Linked DNA regions of Homo sapiens. The protein of the gene in region 4 purifies or fractionates together with the protein of the main gene of each other region. This does not show direct contact. Each region holds a gene or a part of one and is shown on either strand. Other genes may lie near its edges.

What was found.
Region 1: the proteins of GJB7 (region 4) and CCNYL1 purify together in Homo sapiens (affinity purification with mass spectrometry; 2 studies listed by BioGRID and IntAct, with this or other methods). This does not show direct contact.
Region 2: the proteins of GJB7 (region 4) and RFTN1 purify together in Homo sapiens (affinity purification with mass spectrometry; 2 studies listed by BioGRID and IntAct, with this or other methods). This does not show direct contact.
Region 3: the proteins of GJB7 (region 4) and GNAZ purify together in Homo sapiens (affinity purification with mass spectrometry; 2 studies listed by BioGRID and IntAct, with this or other methods). This does not show direct contact.

The regions. Positions count from the first base shown.
Region 1 is NC_000002.12:207,714,634-207,721,670, reverse strand, and holds part of CCNYL1 (cyclin-Y-like protein 1), read right to left. Parts: intron 1-7,037. UniProt on the Homo sapiens protein: Key regulator of Wnt signaling implicated in various biological processes including male fertility, embryonic neurogenesis and cortex development. Activates the cyclin-dependent kinase CDK16, and promotes sperm maturation.
Region 2 is NC_000003.12:16,503,695-16,510,731, forward strand, and holds part of RFTN1 (raftlin), read right to left. Parts: intron 1-7,037. UniProt on the Homo sapiens protein: Involved in protein trafficking via association with clathrin and AP2 complex.
Region 3 is NC_000022.11:23,073,519-23,080,518, reverse strand, and holds part of GNAZ (guanine nucleotide-binding protein G(z) subunit alpha), read right to left. Parts: intron 1-7,000. UniProt on the Homo sapiens protein: Guanine nucleotide-binding proteins (G proteins) are involved as modulators or transducers in various transmembrane signaling systems.
Region 4 is NC_000006.12:87,319,242-87,326,278, forward strand, and holds part of GJB7 (gap junction beta-7 protein), read right to left. Parts: intron 3,803-7,037; 5' UTR 3,625-3,802; intron 3,392-3,624; exon of another isoform or gene 3,347-3,391; intron 1-3,346.

The DNA.
Region 1 (7,037 bases), on a different chromosome or scaffold from region 4:
TGTATAAAATTGTATTTTAAGACCCACCAGTTTTGTATTATCAATTTAAATTGCAACTTAATTCGAAAGCATGATAGTATGATGGGGGGCAAGTAAGACAAAAAAAAATTAAACTCAGGTCTTAATATAAACACCCCCCTCAGGGGAAGAAATCTGTAAGATCCACTGACATTGAACACTGCTTCTCCTTGAATCTATCAGCCATCTCAATTTCACAGATGTTAATTAAAAATGTAAAAATATGGAACTTAGAATAAATGAAATGCATTATTACTAAAGGCTAAAAGTGTTAAAATTATGCAATTGTAAACTGTAAAGAAATTATTTTTCTTGTCAAAATATTAAAGGGAGAGGGCAGCAACCAAGAAAGTAACTGACAGAAGCAGCATATTTCAGAGAAAGAGATTGAGTTCAACATATTGATTTCAATATATCCCAATTAAACAGGAGACATTGGCAGTTTCTGGGCCAACTGCTGGGCATCTGTTTATTTAAAGGCTTACTGCATTTACTGACCTGCTCTACCATACTGCACACTGTATTAGTCTTACGGTCCATAACACAAACATTTCAAACCTCTCAACTATGATGTAAACGCTGAGATTTTATCTAAGTTCACACGTTCCACCCATCAGGTAAGTCTTACCTGATGGGTCTTGAGCTGCCCTGCCTCATCTGAGGTCACACAGTACCAGCCAAGCTCCAGTCTCATGCTCACTCATGCCTTGCTTTTGCTTTCCTAGCTTCTGACAATCCTAAATCTGGTTTCCGAAACACTGCTCTACCTCCTTCTATGTCAGTGTTCAGTCTTGCTTTAACTTACCTTCACGCCTCAATCTATGTTTTAGTGATCGTGACTGAGCTGTGACATTTCATATGCTATAGTATACCTTTCTCCCTTTGTGTATTTCTTAATAGCACTTAACTCCTTTTTTAGACTTTTAAGAGTATTTCTGGGTGGAGTGCAGTGACTCACACCTGTAATCCCAGCACTCTGGGAGGCTGAGGCAGAAGGATCACTTGAGAACAGTTCAAGACCAGCCTGGGCAACATAACATAGTGAGACCCCCATCTCTACAAAAATTTTTTAAAAGATTAGTTGGGTGTGGAGGCACATGCCTGTAGTTCCAGCTATTTGGGAGGCTGAAGTGGCAGGATAACTTGAGCCCAGGGATTTGAGGTTACAGTGAGCTCTAATGGCACTACTGTGCTCCAGCCTGGGCGACAGGCAGAGTTGTGACCCTGTCTCATACAGAGAAAAGAAAAAAAAAAAAAAAGTCTGGGTTACAAGTACCTCCATTTCATTTTTCATTATCCAATGTTATTATTTTAACTCTAAAGCTTAATTAACTGAAAAAAAGGTGGAAAAAAGGCAGTATCCAAAGAAGCCCATGAGTCATTCTATAAATTCTAATCCTATATGCCATATATCTGAAATTTACATTCTTGATCTACCAAGCCTTTTTTTTTTTTTTTTTTTTTTGAGACGGAGTCTCACTCTACCACCCAGGCTGGAGTGCAGTGGCATGATCTCGGCTCACTGCAACCTCTGCCTCCTGAGTTGAAGCGATTTTTCTGCTTCAGCCTCCCAGGCAGCTGGGACTACAGGCATGTGCCACCACACCCAACTAATTTTTGTATTTTTATTAGAGATGGGGTTTCACCATGTTGGCCAGGATGGTCTCCATCTCCTGACCTCGTGATCCACCCACCTCAGCCTCCCAAAGTGCTGTAGTACAGGCATGAGCCACCACCACACCTGACCATACCAAGTCTTATCTTTTTAAACCTTGGAAAACTCTTAGTCCCAGCTACTTGGGAGGCTGAGGCAAGAGGATCACTTGAGCCCAGGAAGTGGAGGCTGCAGTGAGCTATGATCACACCACTGCACTCCAGCCTCGGCAACAGAGAAAGACCATCTCAAAAACAAAAAACAAATTAAAAAACCTTGGCAAACTCAATTTACACCTCTCAAAGCCTGTCTTCTCATATGTAAAACAAGTATAATTCTTATACTACCTAACTCAAAATATAGTGAGAATAAAATGAAATGCAAGAGCAATTGCTATAAGCCGGGCGCAGTAGCTCACACCTGTAATCCCAGCATTTTGGGAGGCTGAGGTGGGCAGATCACCTGAGGTCAGGAATTCAAGACCAGCCTGGCCAAGATGGCGAAACCCCTTCTCTACTAAAAATATAAAAATTAGCTGGGCGTGGTGGCACATGCCTGTAGTCCCAGCTACTCAGGAGGCTGAGGCATTAGAACTGCTGGAACCCAGGAGGTGGAGGTTGCAGTGAGCTGAGCTCGTGCCACTGTACTCCAGCCTGGGCAACAGAACTAGACTCCATCTCAAAAAAAAAAAAAAAAGCAATTGCTATATACCACATAATGCACAATAAATTATAAAACAAAGTTTTCACAAATTAAAAGCAAAAGTGAACAGTTAGCATTTATTGGAAAGCCCATACCAAAATAACATCTTCAGCAAATATGCACTTTGGCTACCTCTGAAATTAAGGGAAAAACAGTCACACACCACCACCAAGAATTCCTTTCAGTGTTGTTGTTTTAAATAAGCAAATACATATTATTTCATACATTACTGTACATTCTCCTCCTTGTTTTTTTTCATGTAACATATCCTGGATATCTGGGTATCACTCCATAGCAGTAAAGAGAGTTTTTTTTTTTTTTAACAGCTCCATAATTCTCCTCTGTGTGGATATAACAGTTTATTTTACCAATTTCTTACTAGACATATTATTTCCAATATTTAGCTATTGAAAATAATGCAACAAAACCTTATGCACATGTTATTTCATATTTATGGGGTATGCCTTCAGGATAAATTCCTTGAAGTAGGATTTCTGGATTAAATGCATTTGCAATGTTTGAGATTATGCCAAATTCCTCTTCAGGGAGTCAAACCACCTTACATTTTAACCAGCAATACACGAATGCAACTCTTCGCAGCCACACCAAAGAATGTATTGTCAAGTTTTTGGATCTTCTCCCAACAGAAGAGAAATCACAGCACAGTTTTCGTTTGTATTTCTCTTAAGTGTGAAGCTGTGTTTAAGGATCATCTGCATTTATTTTTCTGTGACTTGTCTATTCATCACTTTGCTACCTACTTTTACAGCTAGTCTGATCTTTTTTTTTTTTTGAGACAGTCTCACTGTCACCCAGGCTGGAGGGCAGTGGAGCAATCACAGCTCAATGCAGCCTTGACTTCCTGGGCTCAGGAGATTCTCCTGCCTCAGCTTCTTGAGTAGCTGGGACTATGGGTGTGTGCCACCACACCTGGCTAATTTACTTTTTGTAGAGGCAGGGTCTCAGCACGTTGTCCAGGCTAGTCCCAGCCCACTCCTGGGCTCAAGCAATCCTCCTGCCTCTGCTTCCCAAACTGCTGGGATTATAGGCATGAGCCACCGTCTGATCTTTTTCTTAAACAATTAAAAATATTGGCCGGGCATGGTGGCTCACACCTGTAATCCCAGCACCTTGGGAGGCCAGGGTGGGTGGATCACGAGGTTGGGAGATCGAGACCATCCTGGCTAACACGGAGAAACCCCATCTCTATTAAAAATACAAAAAATGAGCCGGGTGTGGTGGCACGTGCTTGTAGCCCCAGCTACTCGGGAGGCTGAGGCAGGAGAATCGCTTGAACCCAGGAGGCGGAGGTTGCAGTGAGCCAAGATTGAGCCACTGTACTTCAACCTGGGCGACACAGTGAAGATTCCATCTCAAAAAAAAAAAAAAAGAATTAAAAATATTTCCCAGGCTATAATCCTCCAATGGTTTCCTATCACAACTAAAGTCTATATTCTTTGCCAAGGCCCACTATACACACATGGCCTTAACCCACCATAGTCCTGGCATCCTTTTCACTCTTCCGCAGCCACCCTGTGTCTTTCTGTCCTTGGCCAAAAACAAGTTTGCTCCCATTCAAGGAACTCCAAAGTAACTGTCTGTGTGGACCCCTGGCTCTCACCAACCATCCTCACAAGGCTCCCTTCTCACTTTAGGACTGCTCACAGGTCACGTAAGGAGAGCAGCCATCTTTCATCCCCACAACCCCCATGTAACTGTCCTCCTCCCCAATCCATGACCCTATTTTACTTTTCTCCCTAGCACCTCACCACCTAACATTCTTGATTATTCATGTATTATCTATCCCTAGCTCCCTCCAGAATGTAAGGATCAGAGTTAGGATGAGGTTCTGTCTTGTATACCACTGTCTGCCCTAAATCTGGAACACAGCCTGGCCACCTAAAGGTACTCAATAAACATCTGTTTCAGCACACCCAAAACTAGTCAAGTTTCTCCCAGTTTTCCCACATCTTTTAATATTTCTTCTAACATTCTCTCTTGATTTGTCATCTAATCAAATCTTTTAAAGTGGTAAGCATCAAATCTTTTAAAGTGGTAGCTATTCAGAATTAAAGATGCAAGATAGGCTACCAAGAAACAAAAAATATTAAATGATGAATTCTAAAGTCCAGGGAAAAGTCAATGCTAACTCCAATTTGACATAAGAACTTTTTTTTTTTTTTTTTTTGAGATGGAGTCTCGCTCCGTCACCCAGGCTGGAGTGCAGTGGCGTGATCTCGGCTCACTGCAATCTCTGCCTCCTGGGTTCACACCATTCTCCTGCCTCAGCCTCCCGAGTAGCTGGGACTACAGGCGCCCGCCACCACGCCCGGCTAATTTTTTGTATTTTTCGTAGAGACGGGGTTTCACCGTGTTAGCCAGGATGGTCTCGATCTCCTGACCTCGTGATCCACCCGCCTCGGCCTCCCAAAGTGCTGGGATTACAGGCGTGAGCCACCACACCTGGCCCATAAGAACATTTAATACTAAAATATCTTAACTACAAAATGACTCAACCCATAGATTTAACTGAATTCTACAGGGAGGTACAAGGCATCAGTCATCAAAATATGTTTTTATCGGTACCCTTGAAATCAAATGTAATGAGACTGTGTATGATGTTACTAGAAAAGATGCCCAATCATAAAGGATAGGTAAATAAATGATACTCCAACCATCTGATGGTACATTAAGCAGTTACTAGAAGGCATGCGATAGAGCAGGGTGTCCTGGCATGGAAAGATATCTTGGAGCACTCTCTGGATGTCAAGCAGTGATTCAGGAATTTATGACATTATTTCACTGCTGTAAGTTATGAAGCAGCTCATATAGAATGATCTCATTTTTCTAAAATAAAATGTTATATTCATATGCATACCATAATCAATGACTTTTCTGTATTCTCTATGTCTTTTACATCAAACATATTATTCAAAAAAGCAAAAAAAAAAAAAAAAGAGAGGGCTTAAAATAGCTACTGGAAAGAGGAAAGATCTGTTGCTCAGAGGTTTTTCCACATTACATTGCCAATTCTTTCCCTACCTTCACCCATCAGTGGAAAAGAATAGAAAGAGTCACTTCAGAGAGCGCCTTTAGCCAGCAAATTAGCAAAGCTCCTAACGTCAGAACATAAAATGCTCCATGAAAAGTCAAGAGTACTAATAAAATCGGACAATAAGATCTTAGTATCTTATTTTGTGTTACTGATACTACCGTCAGTTATGTTAGACATACCGTTAAATAAAGGCAAGGTAGTAGAAAATACTTTGAGTCTATCTGAAATGTTTACTAGGTTCTTAGGAGCATCTCTTAGCTTGACGAGACCAGGCGTGGTGGCTCACACCTGTAATCCCAGCACTTTGGGAGGTTGAGACAGGTGGATCACCTGAGGTCAGGAGTTCCAGACCAGCCTGGCCAACATGGTGAAACCATCTCTACTAAAAACACAAAAAATTAGCTGGGCGTGGTGGCACACACCTGTAATCCCAGCTACTCAGGAGGCTGAAGCAGGAGAACTGCTTGAACTCTGGGCGCAGAGGTTACAGTGAGCCGAGATCGCGCCATTCCACTCCAGCCTGAGCAACAAGAGCGAAACTCCATCTCAAAAAAAAAAAAAAGGCCAGGCGCGGTGGCTCACACCTATGATCCCAGCACTTTGGGAGGCCAAGGCAGCTGGATCGCTTGAGGTCAGGAGTTCGAGACCAGCCTGGCCAACATACTGAAACCCTGTCTCTACTAAAAATACAAAAATTAGCTGGGCATGGTGGCATATGCCTGTAATCCCAACTACTTGGGAGGCTGAGGCAGGAGAATCACTTGAACACGGGAGGAAGAGGTTGCACTGAACCAAGTTTGTGCCATTGCACTCCAGCCTAGGCAAGAGTGAAGCTCTGTCAAAAAAAAAAAAAAAAAAAAAAGAAATAGCTTGAAGAACAAAGCCGAGCGTCATTTATGTATGATTTTTGTCTAAGTAACAAAAATAATTCTTCATTGTAGAAAAGCTAAATTTTTTGTTTGTTTGTTTGTTTTGAGACAGAGTCTTGCTCCACTGTCCAGGCTAGAGTGCAGTGGCACGATCTCAGCTCACTGCAACCTCTGCCTCCTGGGTTCAAGTGATTCTCCTGCCTTAGCCTCCTGAGTAGCTGGGATTACAGATGCCCGCCACCACACCCAGCTAATTTTTGTATTTTTAGTAGAGACGGGGTTTCACCATGTTGGCCAGGCTGCTCTCGAACTCCTGACCTCGTGATCCGCCCACCTCAGCCTCCCGAAGTGCTGGGATTACAGGCGTGAGCCACCATGCCCAGCCAAATGTTTTACATCTCAGTAAGAATTTCTGTTTCCAGGGAGACTGATATAAAATTGTCTGAAATAAAGATATTAAAAGCAAACTTTCAATGTGTCTATACTTTATATTTGGTGTTCTGGCCATGTTTCTATGGAAACTTATGAATAATAGGCAAATGCCGAAATGGAGATTTCTATTATCACTTTATTGAATGCCACAAAAATAAATTTTGAGACAAATTGAAATAAAAATGTAACTGTCATACTAACATACAATGGTAAATTCTGTGCTTACAAATTCTCTTTTTCCAACTTTTCTGATTTAGCACTCTTTATCATCATCCCATGCTTAATGCCTGGTACCTTACCTTCCCTC
Region 2 (7,037 bases), on a different chromosome or scaffold from region 4:
CTCTTGAATCTCTTTCTACCTCAGACACCCCTTCCCAGTCTCCTCTGCCATCCTCCCAGGCAAGCACAGGCACCTCCTACATTTCTGTCCTCCTCCATCCTCTTGCCTCACTTTTCCAAAATTATTTTAATTATAAACCACTTCAAACATATGGAAAAGTACAGAAAATGAGATGTCCATGGATCCACCACCTGGATTTCACAAGTGCTTACATTTTTACCTTATTTGCTTCAGATAGTTTATTTTTGGATAAATAGACATCTTGGACACAGTCCTCATGCCATTCCCTGTCTCCCTATCTTTCTATCCCTGCGTGTACTCTTTTACAATCTATATATAACACCCAGAACAACATATGGCAGAGATTCTGAGGATTTCTCCGTTCACAGTGCCCTTAGTTTCTCTGTACATTTTTTAATGGCATGCCCTAGACTAAAAAAAAAATACCCAATAGTTCGTTTTATTAAGTAGTTAGGTCCAAACAACTTAATACTTATTCACAGCCTAACAACAGCAGCCTTTCAGAAAAATAGCACACATAAACTGAAAGAAGAAATATTTTTTCTTTCATTCTTAACTAACCACAATTACTTGCTAATGGGATGTGTGCATCTGTTGGACACTGAGCAACTTCTCAAAACTTGGAACCACACTGAACACCACCACCCTCATTTTCAGTTCCACACTGATTTTCTTAGCAACTACCCAAAATGTAGCTTGTAAAGATATGACATCATCAAGAGTAATATGGTACTGTCAGATGTTGATATTGTGAAGTGCCTCAAGCTAGTAGTTAGCGTGGTATCTGACAGATGTTAAGTATTGCTGCATTTCCCTCAAAGATGTGAAATATCCCTTGGCCACCCTGTGCCTTTGCTGCAGTGCCTTGCGGTATCTTAGCACAGAATTTGGGAACCACCAATACATAGTATTATGTATGCTCAAAAAAGTTACTTACATGCTATTGTCTCTCCCTTAGCACTCACACTCCCTCTCTTGCCCTAACTTGACCTGCTCCAGGCAAGAGCTCCCCAGTTCCCTTCCCAGCCTGCCTGTCTTCTCTCCAGCTCCAGGCAGACATCTCCAAGAACTGTTTCAACATCTCCACCTGGAACTTTCTCTCTTCACCTGAGACTTTCTCAGCACTTCTGGAAGAATATGCCCCACAGAATGCAGCACCTTGCCCAACAAGCTTGCTCTTCCTCCTGCATTTCTCGTCTCTGGGTGGTACCACTGCCCTCCCAACATCCAGGCCCAAAACCCCAGTATCAGCCTGCTCCCGCCACCATCCTCACCCTGACATTGGCCCATCCAGAGCTGGTGGATGCTATCCATTCCTCCACTTTATTCTCCAAACCAATCTGCCATCGCAACAGCTACCAACGCTTTCCTGGAATCTGCCTCCCCCTCATCCATCTAATTCCTATCTCCAGCTTTTCCCACATTAACCATTTTACACCACACAAGTGGCTCAAAGAGCATAATCACATCTGCTGTGCAGCTTGGAGTCCTCAGCCTCAATCTCCCTCCATCCTCCCTCCTTTCCAGTCCTACCTCCCATTGTTTCCTTTCACAGTTGACCCTAGAGTGAAGTCAGGCTAAGCTACTGCAATCTTTTGTACACCCTCAGAACTCTCCAGGCACCACCCTTTTCCTCCAGTGGACCTCCACCTGACATTCCTTTCCCGTACCTCTCATCTTCTCTATTAGTCAGGGTTCTCCAGAGAAACAAAACCAGTCAGATGTGTGTGTGTGTGTACCCAGATAGAGAGAGACAAATAGAGGTATTTATTATAAGGAATTAGCTCATGAAATTGGGGGGCTGACAAGTTTAAAATCTTCAGGGCAGGCCAGAAGGCTGGAAACCCAGAGAATAGTTGATGTTGCAATCTTGAATCCAAAGGCGGTCTGGAGTCAGAGTTCCTTCTTGTGGATCTCAGTATTTTTTCTTAAGGCTTTCAACTGAATGGATGAGGTCCACCCACATGATGGAGGGTGATCTGCTTTACTCCAAGTCTTCTGATTTCAAAGTTCATCATGCCTAAAAAATAACTCACAGCAATACCCAGACTGGTGTTTGGCCAAAAACTAGGCACCGTAGCCTAGGAAAAAATGACATAAAATTAACCATCACACTCCTTCAAGGCTGAGCTCTAACAGGATTGCCACTCTAGGCCATTGATTCATCCAATAAATAAGTAATGAGCACTTACTATGTGCAAGGCCCTGTTCTAAATGCCAGTGATACCAAAGTAAAACAAAAGAGATTCACACAATAAAAGAGCACGCCTGCCCTCATGGACCTTACCTTCAGAAGCCGAGAAACAGGCAATAGACAAACAAATAAAAATAATACACAAAATCCCATTTTTAAAGTATGCCAACTAGAAAACAACAATGCAGGGGGGAGGGATAGCAATCACAGGAGGAGGTATAGTGTTTTAAATACGGGGATTGGGAAAGGCCACACCCAGAAGGTGACGTTTAAGCAAAATCATGAGGAAGGCCACAGAGCGAGCCATGGGATAAGGGGGAGGGTGGGCTAGGCAAGGCAGTGGCAGGTGCAAACAAGCTGGGGTGTGGGGCCCCTGGGAGGCTGAGCAGACCTCAGGGTGAAGTCAAACAGGGCTGGGGAGACAGAGCGTAGGCCTGGCCGGGCCGTGAGCACTTCAGCTTTACCCTGACTGAGTTGGAAGCCTCTGGAAGGTTTCGAGCTGAAAGAAGACATCAATTACTCTGGCCATGACTGACCATGACAGCAGGGAACCCAGATGACAGTAAGTAGAGGTGTGAGCAGTGGTCAAATTCTGTATATGTTTTGAAGGCAGAAAACAGGATTGACTGATGATTTGGAAAAAGGGGATGAGCAAAAGAGGGCATCCAAGACACCTCTAGGGTTGGTCACCAGCACCTGCAAGGCTGGAGTGGCCATCTTCTGAGATGGGTAGAAGAAGCCAGGAGTTAGCCATGTTAACTCCACCCAAGCAGAGGTATGCAGTAGGCCGCTGGATGTACCATTTCGAGTTCAGAGGAGAGCTCCACAGCTCTTGGTAATGCCTCATCTCCCTACATGACAGTAAATTTCTGGAAGGCAGCAAGCGGGTCTTCTTCATCCCCAACAGCAGCTATTCCAATGCCCTGCCCATAACAGATGCACAATAAATACCTACTTAGCAGCATCTTTCGGGAATAGGAAAGACACTTATCTGGTACAGGATGGTAAAGGGCATTTGGAATATTCCATCTGTGGCTCTCAAATTCACTTTCTTAACAGTACAGCACAGGGGTTGGTCATACAGGCTCTGGAACCAGACTGACTAGGTTCAAATCCTGCTGCCCTTATTTCCTACCTGTGTGACCTCAAGGAAGCCATTTAACCTCAGTTTTCTCATCTGTAAAATGGGGACAACTGCAATATCTACTTCTAGGGTGAGGACTAAATAAGGTAGGGTGAGTTACTATTTAACAGGGCTCAGAAGAGCTCAGACACATAGAAAGAGCAGTATAAATATTAACCGTTTTAGTACTCTACTGGGATTACTTGTTGCTCATTATGAAGACACCTTTTGACCTACTCTGGCCTATAGTCATGATTATGCCACACTGAAAAGGGCACTTATAAGGTATCATAAGACACCAGAAAATCCCAAAAGACCTCTCTAAATTAAAGAAGTGTTTAAATAAACAACCTGATTTCTTGTGCTTTATATTTCCAAAATTTGCTAATACATGATATGATCAGGTTCCATTAACCAGAGTCTATGATTAACCAAATCTCTTACCCAACTTTCTGAGTAAAATCTATTACAACAGTTCCCCCAAATCTGAGGAACTTTAGCGCTATTCCATAAAACTTGAAGGATTCCTCAGGACAAAGGGTAAAAGGCAAAGTAGGGAGTTTCAAAACACACACACACACACACACACATACACACACACATGCACACATCCACAAACACGCACATACATACACACACAATGCACATAAACACACACATACACACACATACATACACATACACACATACACACAAACACATACACACATACATGCACACTCACATACACACAAACACACACATACACTCACATACACACAAACACACACAAACGCACATACATACATACATACACACACACACACATACACACATATATATACACACACACATGCACACATATGAAAGCTGATAGGCCCCCGTAAAGAATAAATTGTAACCCTCAAGGAGGTCTGCCTATGGAACAACACGACGGGACATTTCAGGTGTAAACGCCAGAGAAAGTTGTCAGTGAGGTGCATCTGGCTTCCTGGTTGAAGAAGTGTGGAAACCTCCAATACGGGATCTTAAAGTAGCATAAGAGTTTGTCGGCATCAAACAACTGAGCCAAGCATAGCTTATGTTGATTTCCCACTTCTGGCTGGACTTGCTGCTTGCAGACACCTGAGGAGTGGCTTCCTCTCTCCTGTGAGGCTGGTTCTGAAGTACTGTACACCCCAGCAGAGGTGACAGCCACAGTACCAGCCCTCCACTGTCCCATGTAACTGGGACATCAAAGCTGCCAGCCTTCTCCATCAATCCCTGCACCCCGGAGGCAGGTCAAATCCAGGAAAACTCTAAACGAAGCTTTCAAGTACCCCAAATGGTGTCTCCTCCATCTCAGTCCTGGCAGGGAGCCATCACTGCAGAATGTCACCTGATTTTCCAGCTCTTTGGTTCTGGCCCACTGAGAGTGATTTTTCCTCCTGAATTCAGCCCAGGTAGGGAGTAAGTCACACAATTGCATATTTAAAAGCTGAACTGAATTCTTATTTGGAGAGCAAGGAATTAGCCGGGTTCAAGCAGTGGCTATCGCTTGCCTGCTGTACCAATTTTTTATGAGAAAGTGTCTTGATAAAACATGCAATGCTAATAATGAAAGCCCCTTTGGGGCCCAGGAGAAAAGGGAGATTCAAACGTATGTCAAAAACTGAATGTGAATGGAAGGAAAGATCACACGCACGCACACACACACACACACACACACACACCCCTTTAAAAGGTAAACACAAAAGCAACATCTGGCTAAATGTATCCCTTTGTCAGTGAAAAATAGCAGAAGCCCTAGCCAAGTGTGTTACCAATTCTTAAACTGAAGGGTAAAAAAAAAACACCACAGAGCAGCACTGTCAAACAGAACTTTCAGCAATGATGAAACTACTATCTGTGCTATCCAATTCAGTAGCCACTAACCACACGTGGCTCTGGGCCACTTGAAATGCGGTGAGTGAGACGGAAGGACTGAATTTTAAATTTTCTTTTCTTTTAATTCATTACATTTAAATGTAAATAGCCACATGTAACTAGTGGCTACTGTATTGAACAGTTCAGCTGGCAACGTCTTTCTGTTCCTTCAATAAAATTGTAATCCTAATCAACCAATAATATTTTAAATTATCATCAAAATTAGTATAAGCCCCTGGCTGTGCCAAACTCAGTAAGCTTAAGACAAAATGAAAACAAACAAACAACAACAAAAAAAAACTAAAGAAAATGATTGCAGTGTATCATTTCCTGTAACGCTGTTCTGATTATCTAATTTACATTTCTATTATAATATGGCTTTGTGTATTTGGAAATCCGTGATTGTAGACAGATTTTGCCTTCAAAAAACCAGAATGTCACAGTCTCTTCCCTTAAGGTCTTAGAAAAATGAAAACGTGAACTTAGGGAAAGTTAACCTTGCAAGCTTCAATTTCCTCAGGGCTGAAGTGAAGATAATATAAGTACTCGCCTCTCATGAGGATTAAATTCAGATAATGCGTGCAAAATGTACAACAGTGCCTGGCAAAGGGTAAGCACTCAGCAAGTGGCAGCTATAATTATTTGTATTTTATTAACAATATTAAAATCAGTAATAAAGAGAACAGTGTTAATACAATGAAAGTTTACACTGAACAAAATTTTCCTAGGCCCAAACCCTTTGAATGTGTTTTCCAAGCCATGGTAAAGTGCCCTCGAGTAAAATACATCCTGGGGCCCTGACATCTTGACACCCACTGTCAACCTCCAGAGAGGCGATCACCCAGATGGGTATCACGAGTCACGAAATCACTCAGCCAATGTTTACTGTGTCCCTACCCTCTGGCAGGCACTGCGCTAGGCTTTTAAGGAGGAGGGAACAGTCCCCAAACACAGTGCAATGTCTCAAGACTGAGCTGTCTGCCATCTGACTCCTGCAAAGCTTGGTCAGCCCTGGGACACCTTGATGGGATGCAAAACATGCATCCTGGGGTCCCACTCAGACAGAAAAGTTCACTTCCCGTTTCCTAGATCAGCCAAGGCAAGCTTTGGCTGTTGGCACCACAGAGAGGGACTAAGTTATTAGGGGACCCGAGGGGCACAGGCCCATTTTCCCAGTCAGGACAATAAGAGGGGTGTTGACAGGCCATGTTTCTCACTGAGAGGCCAGATCACTTTCACAAGAGAGTCATTCTCTGAGTCTTAACAAAGCCAAATCTGACCTGCCCCTCAAAATAAACACAACCCCTTTCAGTAGCCGGCTGACCAAGCCGGTGAAATCCAAGGGGACTCTCCACCAAGTTAATATCAACCCTACCAATAGACCAGAAATCCCCCGGGAGTTTCTAGGCAGAAGCTTAGTAAAATTCTGTGGGGCTTGGGGTTATTTTTCTTTTTATAGAAAGCACTCAATCAATCTTCTTTCACAACCAAGGGTACATTCCCCTATGGAATTCCCTTCTCTGAAAATCTCTAAAAATAAAATATTCATCTGATCGTCTGCAATGATTTAAGTTTAAACCCATTTTCAGGCAGAGTCAGGGACTTCCTATGGCCCCTCCACCTATAAAAACATGTTCCCCACTGCCTCAGATTCCCTCTGGCCCCAGAAGAACACTAGTCAAACCATGCTCTTGACTTTAGGATAGGAAAGACAGGGCTGTAGTATCTGGAATCTCATACTTGTATTCTTTGCTGGTGAGACTGTAAAATGGTATAACCATGTTGGGAAAAGGTCTGGCAGTTTCTTTTCAGGTT
Region 3 (7,000 bases), on a different chromosome or scaffold from region 4:
CTATCCTGAAGCCATAGTCCGAGCAGATGGGAGGAAGGACTACGGTTAGTGAACACAGTGTCCCCATCCTACAGACAACCCCAGGCTATGCCCCGGCTGGGCCTCCCAGTGTCCTTCTGCTAAAGGAAGGGGAGATGAGATGACCGGGGAGATGAGATGAACAGGGAGGCCCTTCCCTGTAACCCTGTGCTGTCCTGGCTCTGGACACCCTCAGCCACCTGTCCTGTCTTTTGGCCCACAGCCACCACGGCTGACCAGACAAAGGGTGATAGTGTCGCCTGAGGAACACTGACTCAGGAGGAAATCAAGCCAGATATTTCTCTGGGCCAGGAGTAAATAAATAAATCAATATGCAAAGGTTCCACCTATGGAGGAGAGGGTGGCCATGACAGCAGAGAAGAAGTGGGGCCTTCATTAAGAGCCAAATCAAAGAGGTTGCTGCCTTGGAGAGAGCCGTAGCCCCAGGCTCCTGGCTCCCCAGTTTCCCCAGGGAAGGAAACTGCTGACTCCATCAAACCCTCACTTGAGTGGGGAATCTGATTTCACCTTCTGGGTCTTTGAGGCCCTGCAACCTCCTGCCCTCTGCCTCCATGTGTGGCATCCCACAATCCCATCCCCTACCTTGGGGACCTAGGGGCATGAGTGGTGTCCACTACATGCCCAGCACGCCTTCCCTGCGTCCCTTTCCTTGAGAACTGAGGCTGGCACCACAGGTTGTGGCTGGACCCAGCCAGCCTCAGGGGAACCCTTAATTGCCCTGACTGTCCAGAATTCTACCACTCACTCCCGCTAGCCAGCCCCAGCCTCTCATCTGTTTTGCAGCAGTATGACTTCTCTGGTCTTGCTGTCTCCAGCCCCCTGTGCCCTGTGCTCCACCAGCAGCCAGGGGCATCCTTGTAAAAATGAGGCAGAGTATGTCTCACTTGTGCTTGAAACCTTCTCATGTTTGCTCCCGACGCTTGCTTGACATGGGCAGACCCCGAGTCAAAGTCCAGCCAGGGCACCAGGGCTGTGCAATGCCTGGCCTCTCTGACTCCCACGCCCATGCTCCCCCTCCCCCACTCCTGCCATGCTGCCTCTAGCTGCCTCTCTAGCACCATCCCTCACTCTTAACTCAGGGCCTGTGCACTGGCTGTTCCTTCCTCCTGGAAAACTCTTTGTCCAGAAAGCCAAGTGGACTTCGCTTCCGCGCCCTCTCCCCATCCAATGGCTCAGATGTCCCTTCCTTAGGAGGCCTCCCTGCCCATCCTATTTACGATGGAAAATGACCCCCATATTCGCACACAGCCACACCACGTGTGCTGCCTTGCCCCAAGCATGGTCCCTTTCTAGCACACTGTATAATTTACTTAGAGTGTTTATCGCCCACCTCTTTCCCACTGTGCCATAGGGCAGGGACTGTTGGTCTGTTTGTTCATTGATGTATCCCATGTGCCCACATGGACCTAGCACCAAGCAGGTGCCAATAAATCAATCCCAGGCCCTCGTAGTGACTGAGTGAGGAATCGGTCAACGTGGCTCACGGAGGGGATAGTTGGGGACTTCTGGGAGGTCTTCTGGAAAGGCCCGTGGCCTTCCCTGGGTGGACACGGGTAGACGCACAGCCCCCGCCCACCTGGACTTGGCCGATCCTGATGCTGCCCCACGACTAAGCCCTCAGGCCCGGGAGCCAGGATGTCCCCTCATCTTGTAAGCCCTTTGGGGCTGGGCTTCTGTTGCTACCCCTGCAAGTGTGCTCCCACCCCACATACATTGCATGGCCCCTCAGCCCCCTTAGAAGCCCTGGCCCTCACCCTTGGCCTTCTTCCTGTGCCAGTGATGGGGATAATCCCCCAAACCCTGGCCCACCCAGAGCCTGGGGCTGCAGCCCATTCCCTGTGGTCCCTGGGGACCGCAGTGGCCACACCCTCCACACCTCCTCTATCCATTCCACACCATCCTGGGAGGAGGGAGAGCCCCAGAACAGCCAGCGTGGCAAGACAAACACACTGGAGACTGAGGCCAAGCACTCCAGGAGCCACGACAGAGATGGGGGTGTCAGTGTGGCCAGGAGACTCCTTGGAGGAGGTGGGCAGTGTTGGGGGGACAAGGGCAGCCCCACCAGTGCCTCTGTGTCCCAGCCACGGGGTGGGGCAAGGCTGGGCATGGCTGTGCTTGCGTGCGTGGTGTTATCATAGAGGAAATCAATGCCTGGCACTGGCCCAGTGTTTAAGGGAAATGAATAGATTTTGGCCGAGGACAAAGAGAGTTTGATTAATCCGAAATTGGATAATGGAGGCAACACTCTAATTATTTTTCTTCCCAGCATTTCATCGAGAAATATGTTTGCACAGCATATCAGAGGTAACTGAGCGGGTGAGGGGGTGACCATGCTGGAGGAAAGCCCAGCTCGGAGACAGGCCACCCGCACCCGCCCTCACCAGCAGGGGTCCTGGTAGCCACTCTACAGGGCCACAGGAAGCAAGAGGGCTGGGTGGGGCTGGCCTGAGGCCACATGCAGCTGGGGCAGCTAAGGCCAGAGGGACATGCCATGCAGAGCTGGGCAGGAGGAGGCATGAGGGCCAAGCCCTCATGGTGGAGTTGCTCCTCCCCTGGCCTGGCCACAGTTAGGGGTAGGGCCACTAGTGTGGGGGTGCAAGAGGAGTAGGGGTGAGGTACCACCAGTTCACAGGGGGTCAGGGCCTGCTGGGGTCAGGGTGAAGGCTGTAGGTGCCAAGTTCTCCCACCCATAGTCAGAAGGGTCTTCAGAAGGCCCCTCTTGGCAGCTTGGAAGGTTTTCCCAGCTTTGCCTCTGGGGAAGCCTGATTAGCTGCTCCATAGCCAAGGTCAGACAGGACCACCGGGCCCCACAAACACAGAGCCTGGTACTTTACATGCCTCAGCCCTCCTTAGTCACCTTGCCCCCTCCTCCCTTGCTGACCCCACTCCTGCAACACCTGGAGCTGAAACCACACGGTTTAGCACCTTGTTTCCGTGGCCATCCAGCCTCCCAATTCCAAGAAGGCTTCTAGGGGCTCCTTGCTGGAACAGAGATCAACATCAGGTGTACATCCAAGAGGAGGCTCCCGGCCTTGTAGAGTGGTTGAGTCTCTACCACTCATTCACTTATTCATTCTTCAGTGTACAGAAAGAGGCTGCCATGAACGAAGCATGGGGTTGGACCCTGAGGTCACTACAGGGAGTGAGGCATCAAATGAGAGAAGAGACAGTCAGCAAGCAATGACCTGAGCTGCTCATGGGACTCAGGAAGACGGAGGCCAGTCCTTCCCAATAAGGGGTTAGCATCAGTGTCACTAAGGAAGGGGCATGTAAGGAGAGATAGGGTGGGTTAAAGCTGCTAGATAGGAGGGGGTACAGTGGTGAGGTTCACCAGTCACTGGCAAGCTCATCTAAATCCTGCCTCCCGTGCCCGCTGCAGACATCACTAATCGACCATGACTCTTTCCCTCTGGGCTGCAGCACAGCCTTAGAATCCTCTTCAGCACAGCATGCTTTGGACGGTCACTCCAGAGTTGAGATAAGGAAGGAAACTATCTGTACACTTGACCCAGCCCAGAGCTTCCAACTCAAAGGCAAGGAAGGCCCAGAGAGTGGAAAGCATTCGCAGGGTCACCATCACAGGCAGAGCTGGACTTCTACCCAGGCCTGGTGCCTTCCCCTGCCCTGAGCTCCTCTACTGGCCTGAGAGGCCACTCCTTGATCTTGGGGCACAGGGGCCACCTGGAAAGGCCACTCTACCATCATCATGTTCCTTTACTACCTTCAGGGTCTTGGCTCATCCCCTTAGGACAGTTTTCCATAGACATGCCTCTGAAGGTCATCACTCTGTGAATCCCCGTGTCTGACAAAGGCCCCACTGAGTCACATTGCATCACTGAGTGGCCCGGCGTCAGCCCGAGGCATCTGTCCACCTGCCTCTGGCTTGAGAGTAACCCACAGTTGGGCCTGACGGGGCCCAGCTGGTAGCATCCACCTGAGGGTGGTTTGTGTTTGGTGGCCAAACCTGAGGCCCAGAGACACATCTCTGGGGACCCAAAGGTACAACCTCTTAGGAGCAGAGGGTTGAGCTGGAGCAGGGGTTCTGCAGCGCACGAGCACACAGCTCAGCCCTAGGGCAAAAGGGGCTGGACAGGGCCACTGAGGCATGACTGTCTGCGAATATTCAGTCCCTCCACAGCGACTCCCTGGGTGGCGATTCTCAATGGTGACTCCGCAACGTCCCTGCCCTCATGGAGCTTACACAAACACATACGATGAATGAATCAAATAGGGAGCAGGTCACGCTGTGGCGAGTGCTAAGGGGAAAAAAATAGCAGCAGGAAAGGGCATAGGAAACATGGTCAGGAACATGGCGCTGTTCTACATAGAGGCCCCACCAGCCCTGTCTGGAGCAGGGCCACAGCCTAAGAGCCAGCCCTCACTGCCATGCCAGCCTCCAGCACAGCCTCCTCCTCAGCCACCCTTCCTATGACCAACCAGGGTGAGAGGGACCATGCTGCCCAGATGCGGGGCTGCCCAGACCTACTAAGGCACTGGGCACATGAGGTCCACTCTCCACACCTCAGAGGACCTTGGCCTCCATGACTCACAGGGGCAGACCTCACAAAGGAGCAGACCTCACAGGGGCAGACCTCACAAAGGACCTTGGCCTCCGTGACTCACAGGGGCAGACCTCACAAAGGGACCTCTGTCCTGGCAGCTCTCCATCCCAGGGGCCAAGGGTCTCCTGAAAGGTTTGCTCTAACCACAACCACGGTCCCCCATGGCCATGAGAGGCCTGGCTGAGCCCTCGGGGACGGGGTGTGTTTCTGGTTGGAGGCTGCTAGAAGGAACACCCCCGGGCTTGACACTATGTGTAAGGCCCCTCCCTGCACTGTGGCTTTTAACAGTCTCGCTTCTTAGCACTTTTTGATGGATTCTCCAGGGACGTCTCTAAAAGAGAGTTATACCTTAATTTAGAAGCAAATAACTCAAAACTCTGTGATGTGGCAGCTTCCTTTGGAAAAGAGATGAACGCAAAGAAGCCATTGCTGTGTGAAGCTGTGGCCATGTAGGTCCAGGGCCTGCTGATGGGACCATCTAAACCTCAACCTCAAGATGTGCCTCCTGCTGCCTCTTGCCCAAGGGTCCACAGACCAAGGGGCAAGAAGCAAGACATTTAGTGAAGAATTGCAGCAGGCAATTGCCTGCTGCAGTTTTCACTTTGGGTTCCCTGGGCCATGGTGCCAAGGTGAAGCTCACAGGCTGGGTGTGACTGACTCCAGCGGCCCTGAAAGTCCAACGCAACCCACCCGCCCACTCAGGGAAGGGAGGAGAAATGCTGTGGGGACTGGGCAGCAGGCAGGTTGCGGGCCCACCCTCCAGGCCTTCCTTCTCCACAGGGGCCACTACATCCCCAATATTATCCTTGAGGTCCCTGTGACCAGCCAGCTTCCTGGGCACTCACTTGGGCATCCATACAGTTTTAATGCTCTGCTGTTGCTGTTCTGGAATGCATAATTTTAGTTTTACTTTTGTAGAGACAGGCTCTTACATGTTGCTCAGGCTGGTCTCAAACTCCTGACTTCAAGTGATCCTCCTACCTCAGTCTCCCATAGTATAGGATTACAGGTGTGCGCCATCATGTCAGGCCCTTAATAATTTTCAAATGGGGGCCCCCAAAATCATGTGGCCAGCTGTGCCTGCATTGCTCAGTCCCTGGGCATGCCCTGCCTGCTTGACACAGGGGACCTGCTCTCTGGGACCCGCTCTTCTCCAGCCTCCCGAGGCGCCACTGTGACTGTGCTTCCACCTCACTTGCCCGTCAATCCTCAATCTCTCTTTCTCGATGCTTCTCAACTCATCCTCCCCACAGTGGAGGCCCAGGAGCCCAGCTCAGCCTCTTCTGATCCTACCTACCCTTGATCCCTAAGTGACCTCACGTGGTCCCCGGCCTGCCACACACCTCAGTGCCAGGGGCTCCAGGTTGCCACCTCCAGCCTTGCTCTCCCTCTGGCCACATGTGCCCATCAATGGCTCTCCAGGTCTCAGACCCACCTCCTAATTCCCCACCTCTCCAGAATGGGTTTTTCTGTATCTTGCTTCTCAGCCAATACCAGCTCCATCTTTCTACTGGTTCAGACCAAAACTGCAGCTGTCCTTTAAAAGCTGCAGCTTTAAAAAAACAAATCTCCCACCTGCATTTCTCAGGGCCTCCAGAGCTCCCACCCCTGGGTCAGCAGCCTCTCTGCCTGGGATGTTGCAGTAGCCCCTCATGGCCCCCAGCCTTACCCCACCCTAGCCTATTTTCCCACCTCAGCAGAGAGATCTTTTCAAAGTGTAGATTAGCTCCTCCTGGGAGGGCAGCTCCAGTCTCTTCTCTGCTCCAACCCTGCCAAGGTCTTCCTGCCTCATTGGGGCCCACTGAGTCCTGCAGGACCTGGCCCTGACACCCCACCCACACTCCTGCACCAGGTTCCAGCCACTCTGGTGGGGCCTCCAGGGGCCAGGGAGTGTCTGCTCAGCGCCTTTGCACCTGCTGTCTCTCCCCTGCTCAGCCACACCACTCACCCAGCACTTCTGCATGGCACTGTGTCAGTCCCCCACCCCCATCTCGTGTCCCCCACCTTCTGCTTTAGTGTTCTCCACAGTGCAGCACTTAGTAACATGTGTTACTGTCAACCCCTGCCCGTCTGGTGTGAGCACTGTGAGTGGATGCTACGTCCCTGCTGTACCCCTGCACCTGGCACAGTGCCTGGCATGCAGCAGGCGCTGGTAAATGTTAGCTGAACAAATGAATGGATGAATCGCGTGAGGTTCTGCTCCTCCGGCTCAGTCCAGAGGGCTGATGTCTCCTCCTATGTGCTCTAGGATCTGTCAAGCGGTCCCTGTTGGTTCAATCCTGTGAAGCGCCTCCCCTGGCGGTGTTCGCACGAAAGGGCCAAAATGTGTGGCAGGGGCTGGTGTGGGGACAGGGCAGGGCACTCTTGGCTTTGGGTATGGATGAGGATAATGAGGTTCA
Region 4 (7,037 bases):
CAGCATAAAATGGAATGAATTATAAACAAAAATGACTAAACACGTCCTATCATTCACATTGTATTCATATCCATGAAATGGGCAAGGCCTTCAGGCTTTTCTCTGTTATCTTTACCTACAGCTTGTGCTCTTTTCTTACACATGCTTATGTTTCTTGTATTCTTTCATCTGATCACTTTCTATTGATCATGACAGTAAAAGTACTTTGTTTCCATAGTGATATTTGACATGTTACAGATCACTGAGAACCCTAAGGGATAAGAAAAAAGTTTGGGTCTGCTTAGGATGCAACATAATAATATTTTATAGCCTTCCAATTGTTTTTAGCTACTGCAGTAACAGCTTTTTAATTGAAATTTAACTTATTTTGTCAGAAGATTGCCTTGTAATACCAGTTGTCAATGAACTTTTAAAAATTAAACCTCAAGCCAGGTATATACCTAAAAGAAAGGAAATCAACACATCAAAAAGATATCTGCTCTCCCATGTTTACTGCAGCACTATTCACAATAACCCAATTTAGATGCAATCTAAGTGTCCATCGACAGATAAATGGATAAAGAAAATGTGGTACATATACACAACAGAGTACTATTCAGCCATAAAAAACAATTTGCAACCACATAGATGGAACCGGAGGACATTATTTTCAGTGAAATAAGCCAGGCACAGGAAGACAAACTTTGCATGTTCTCACTTATTTGTGGGAGATACAAATTAAAACAAAAGAACTCATGAAAATAGAGTAGAATGATGGTTACCAGAGGCTGGGAAGGGTAGTGGGGATGGGGGGAGTGGGAAATGGGGATTTTTAGCGGGTACAAAAGTATAGTCAGATAAAATGAATAAGATCTAGTATTTGATAGCACAACACGGTGACTACAGTCAGCAATAGTTGATTGTACATTTAAAAATAACTAAGGGTATAATTGGAATGTTTGTAACATAAATGATAAATCCTCGATGTGGTGGATACCCCATTTACCCTGATGTGATTATTATTCATTGTATGCTTGTACCAAAATATCTCATGTACCCCATAAATACATACACATAAATATTAAAAATTTTTAAAAATTAAACCTCAAATCAAATGTGAAGTTAATTTGGCTTGGGAGAAAAAGTTTTAAATTCGAAACATATTTACCAAAGCTTTACATAAACCCATGCCAAAATATTGGTACCTTCTATTCCAACTATTCTGTTCATTTTAATATAACTTGTGTAAACCAGAAAGTCTATGAGATAGGTCTCAATCAATTTAGAGGTTTATTTCACCAATGTTAAGGACCATGGCCTGTGACACAGCCTCAGGCAGTCCTGAGAACATGTGCCCAAGGTGGTCGGGCTACAGCTTGATTTTATACATTTTAGAGAAATGGAAGTTACAGGCAAAGACATGTATCAATACATGTAAGGTATACATTGGTTTGGCCCATCTCAAAGCAGCGTGGGGGTGGGCTTCCAGGTCAAAGATGAATTCAAAGATTTTTCACATTTTCAATTAGTTGAAAGAGTTAAGCTCTGCCTGAAGATGTGAAGCCAGCTGGAGTTAAGGTAAGCGGGGGTGTTGTGGCAGCCAAGGTTCTCCTTATGTAGATAAAGCCTCCGGGTAGCTGGCTTCAAAGAATAGATGTGAATGTCTCTTATCAGACCTTAAAAGATGTCAGACTCTCTGGAAAAGACCTAGTAAGGGGCCAGGCACAGTGGCTCACGCCTGTAATCCCAGCACTTTGGGAGGCCGAGGTGGGTGGATTGCCTGAGGTCAGGAGTTCGAGACCAGCCTGACCAATATGGTGAAACTCTGTCTCTATTAAAAATGCAAAAATTAGCTAGGCTTGGTGGCATACACCTGTAGTCCCAGCTACTCGGGAGGATGAGGCAGGAGAATTGCTTGAACCCAGGAGGTGGAGGTTGCAGTGAGCCGAGATCATGCCACTGCACTCCAGCCTGGGTGACAGAGTGACACTCCGACACTCCATCTCAAAAAAAAAAAAAAAAAAGATCTAGTAAGGGAAAGAGATTTTCTATAGAATGTAAGTTTTCCCCAACAAGAGACAGCTTTGCGAGGCCATTTCAAAATAGTCAAATAAATATATTTTGGGGTAACATATTTTTATTTCTTTCAGGTCCCACTATGTGTCACGTGATGTTATTCCAGAGTCAGGTTGGAATTTTCTTATTGCTACAGTATATTTTACCAGTCTTACGATCTCCGTTTTAATGTTAATGCTGGTCAGTTGTGTCTAACCTCCAACGGGAGGAAGGTATAATGAGGCATATCCAACCGCCCACCCCTTCCCATCAGGGCCTGAACTCATTTTTCAGGGTTTTTTTGAGATTACCTTGGCCAAGACAGAGGTCCATTCCTTTCAGGGGTGGGTTGGTGATGGTGGTGCTTAGAATTTTATTTTTGGTTTTTGTATTAGTCTCTTCTCACACTGCTAGAAAGAACCACCTGAGGCTGGGTAACTTATAAAGAAAAGAGGTTTCATTAGCTCACAGTTCCACAGGCTGTACAGGAGGTATGGCTCCAGAGGCCTCAGGAAACTTACAATCATGGTGGAAGAGGAAACAAGCACGTCTTACCGTGGTGCAGGAGAGAGAGAGAAAGAGAGAGAGTGTGAAGGGGGAAGTGCTACACTCTTATAAACAAACATCTTCTGAGAACTCCATCATGGGAATGGCAAGGGGGAAGTCGGCCCCATGATTCAGTGACCTCTCACCAGGCCCCTCCTTCAACACAAGGGGGCTATTATTCCATATGAGATTTGGGTGGGGACACAGAGCCAAACCACATCAGTTTTCACGTGTATCCCAACAAACTTAAACATCAGCAAAGTATGTGCAAACCAGCATCCCTATATCTATTCTTGTCTCAACTGCACCTGCATACATCCTGCATCTTGGACTCTCAAGGCCCTAACGTAATGGCAGAGTATTAACTCTACACTTAAATGACTGTTCCCCTAAAGTAGGGGTAGGAAGAAATCAGATCTAGCTTTCTTTCCCAAATCAGAATGCTTTCCACTTTCATGAAATAAACATACTTCTAGGAGATGTCTCCTTTTATTTATACAAACATACACACCGAACTGGAACGTAATTTGAAGTTGGGAGGTGGAAAACTAAAGGTCAAAAAGGGAAGAAAGCAAAAACGTCCCTTGCACACTTCAGCCCGCAGACCCCAAGGAGGGGCGCGAGGTCCTCAGAACCGGAAAGGCTAGCACTGGATGGGTCCCCGCAGCCCCGCGCCGCTGCGCCGCAGCCTCCGGAAGACAGGGGACGCTGTGGCGCCGGGCGGGGCGCCCTCCGCCGCTCTCTCTAGCAGGCGGGGCGGCGAAGCGGGGCGGGGCGTCTCGGGCGAGGAGAGGAGGTGACCCCGCGAAAGGTAAGCGGCGGCTTCGGTGGTGTTGAGTGGCTGGGCGCCGGCCTGGAGGGGCCAGGGCGGCCGCACCATCACGCTCCCGTCTCTGCCCTTCCCAGCTGCCCTGCCGGTCTCCCTCCCAGGGAGGGAGCGTCCTCTCGGATAGCCCAAATCTTTGCCTCTCCGTGGACTCCCTGTACCCGCACCCCAAGTCGGTGAAGCTCTCTGGCCCCACAGAGCCCATTTCCCGTACTCACCTTGCGGGCTCCAGTTTGTTCGGTGCTTCATCCATGGACACCCCCACCCCGAGAACTCTCTCGTTTCCTGCAGTTTCTTAGTGTCTTGGCTCACCAGACTCATAGGGGAACATGGTGGTGTTTTGAGGAGACGCCGCTTTTCTTTTGTCATAGTGCGGACACTCGTGCTTTTTCAGCCCTGCAACACAATGTGTAGAACTTAACGGAATGAAGTTTTCTTTTGGAGGCTTCCAATGCGTCTGTCTTTGAGTAAGCCTTCGGCACCGAACAGTAGTCCATGACATTGGGGGAAGCCAGATGAGACTCAGATTGTCAGTACTCAGGCTGTCGCCAGCAAAGCCTTTCCCCTTTTTTCAGAGACAGTACTACATCCAAGAGGTGGAAAGATACTTTTGTTTTGTTTTGTTTATTTATTTATTTGTTATTATTATAAGTTTTAGGGTACATGTGCACAATGTGCAGGTTAGTTACATATGTATACATGTGCCATGCTGGTGCGATGCACCCACCAACTGGACATCTAACATTAGGTATATCTCCCAATGCTATCCCTCCCCCCTCCCCCCACCCCACAACAGACCTCAGAGTGTGATGTTCCCCTTCCTGTGTCCATGTGTTCCCATTGTTCAATTCCCACCTATGAGTGAGAATATGTGATGTTTGCTTTTTTGTTCTTGCGATAGTTTACTGAGAATGATGATTTCCAATTTCATCCATGTCCCTACAAAGGACATGAACTCATCATTTTTTATGGCTGCATAGTATTACATGGTGTATATGTGCCACATTTTCTTAATCCAGTCTATCATTGTTGGACATTTGGGTTGGTTCCAGGTCTTTGCTATTGTGAATAATGCCGCAATAAACATACGTGTGCTTGTGTCTTTACAGCAGCATGATTTATAGTCCTTTGGGTATATACCCAGTAATGGGATGGCTGGGTCAAATGGTATTTCTAGTTCTAGATCCCTGAGGAATCGCCACACTGACTTCCACAATGGTTGTACTGGTTTACAGGCCACCAACAGTGTAAAAGTGTTCCTGTTTCTCCACAGCCTCTCCAGCACCTGTTGTTTCCTGACTTTTTAATGATTGCCATTCTAACTGCTGTGAGATGGTATCTCATTGTGGTTTTGATTTGCATTTCTCTGATGGCCAGTGATGGTGAGCATTTTTTCATGTGTGTTTTGGCTGCATAAATGTCTTCTTTTGAGAAGTGTCTGTTCATGTCCTTCGCCCACTTTTTGATGGGGTTCTTTGTTTTTGTCTTGTAAATTTGCTTGAGTTGATTGTAGATTCTGGATATTAGCCCTTTGTCAGATGAATAGGTTGTGAAAATTTTCTCCCATTTTGTAGGTTGCCTGTTCACTCTGATGGTAGTTTCTTTTGCTGTGCAGAAGCTCTTTAATTAGATCCTATTTGTCAATTTTGGCTTTGGTTGCTATTGCTTTTGGTGTTTTAGACATGAAGTCCTTGCCCATGCCTATGTCCTGAATGGTAATGCTTAGGTTTTCTTCTAGGGTTTTTATGGTTTTAGGTCTAACGTTTAAGTCTTTAATCCATCTTGAATTGATTTTTGTATAAGGTGTAAGGAAGGGATCCAGTTTCAGCTTTCTACATATGGCTAGCCAGTTTTCCCAGCACCATTTATTAAATAGGGAATCCTTTCCCCATTGCTTGTTTTTCTCAGGTTTGTCAAAGATCAGATAGTTGTAGATATGTGGCGTTATTTCTGAGGGCTCTGTTCTATTCCATTGATCTATATCTCTGTTTTGGTACCAGTACCATGCTGTTTTGGTTACTGTAGCCTTGTAGTATACTTTGAAGTCAGGTAGTGTGATACCTCCAGCTTTGTTCTTTTGGCTTAGGATTGACTTGGCGATGTGGGCTCTTTTTTGGTTCCATATGAACTTTAAAGTAGCTTTTTCCAATTCTATGAAGAAAGACATTGGTAGCTTGATGGGGATGGCATTGAATCTGTAAATTACCTTGGGCAGTATGGCCATTTTCACAATGTTGATTCTTCCTACGCATGAGCATGGAATGTTCATCCATTTGTTTGTATCCTCTTTTATTTCCTTGAGCAGTGGTTTGTAGTTCTCCTTGAAGAGGTCCTTCACATCCCTTGTAAGTTGGATTCCTAGGTATTTTATTCTCTTTGAAGCAATTGTGAATGGGAGTTCACTCATGATTTGGCTCTCTGTTTGTTGCTGGTGTATAAGAATGCTTGTGATTTTTGTACATTGATTTTGTATCCTGAGACTTTGCTGAAGTTGCTTATCAGCTTAAGGAGATGTTGGGCTGAGACAATGGGGTTTTCTAGGTATACAGTCATGTCATCTGCAAACACGGACAATTTGACTTCCTCTTTTCCTAATTGAATACCCTTTATTTCCTTCTCCTGCCTAATTGCCCTGGCCAGAACTTCCAACACTATGTTGAATAGGAGTGGTGAGAGAGGGCATCCCTGTCTTGTGCCAGTTTTCAAAGGGAATGCTTCCAGTTTTTGCCCATTCAGTATGATATTGGCTGTGGGTTTGTCATAGATAGCTCTTATTATTTTGAGATACGTCCCATCAATACCTAATTTATTGAGAGTTTTTAGCATGAAGGGTTATTGAATTTTGTCAAAGGCCTGTCTGCATCTATTGAGATAATCATGTGGTTTTTGTCTTTGGTTCTGTTTATATGCTGGATTACATTTATTGATTTGCATATATTGAACCAGCCTTGCATCCCAGGGATGAAGCCCACTTGATCATGGTGGATAAGCTTTTTGATGTGCTGCTGGATTCCGTTTGCCAGTATTTTATTGAGGATTTTTGCATCAATGTTCATCAAGGATATTGGTCTAAAATTCTCTTTTTTGGTTGTGTCTCTGCCCGGCTTTCATATCAGGATGATGCTGGCCTCATAAAATGAGTTAGGGAGGATTCCCTCTTTTTCTATTGATTGGAATAGTTTCAGAAGGAATGGTACCAGTTCCTCCTTGTACCTCTGTTAGAATTCGGCTGTGAAGCCATCTGCTCCTGGACTCTTTTTGGTTGGTAAGCTATTGATTATTGCCACAATTTCAGCTCCTGTTATTGGTCTATTAAGAGATTCAACTTCTTCCTAGTTTAGTCTTGGGAGAGTGTATGTGTCGAGGAACTTATCCATTTCTTCTAGATTTTCTAGTTTATTTGCATAGAGCTGTTTGTAGTATTCTCTGATGGTAGTTTGTATTTCTGTGGGATCGGTGGTGATATCCCTTTTATCATTTTTTATTGCGTCTATTTGATTCTTCTCTCTTTTTATCTTTATTAGTCTTGCTAGCGGTCTATCAATTTTGTTGATCCGTTCAAAAAACCAGCTCCTGGATTCATTAATTTTTTGAAGGGTTTTTAATGTCTCTATTTCCTTTAGTTGTGCTC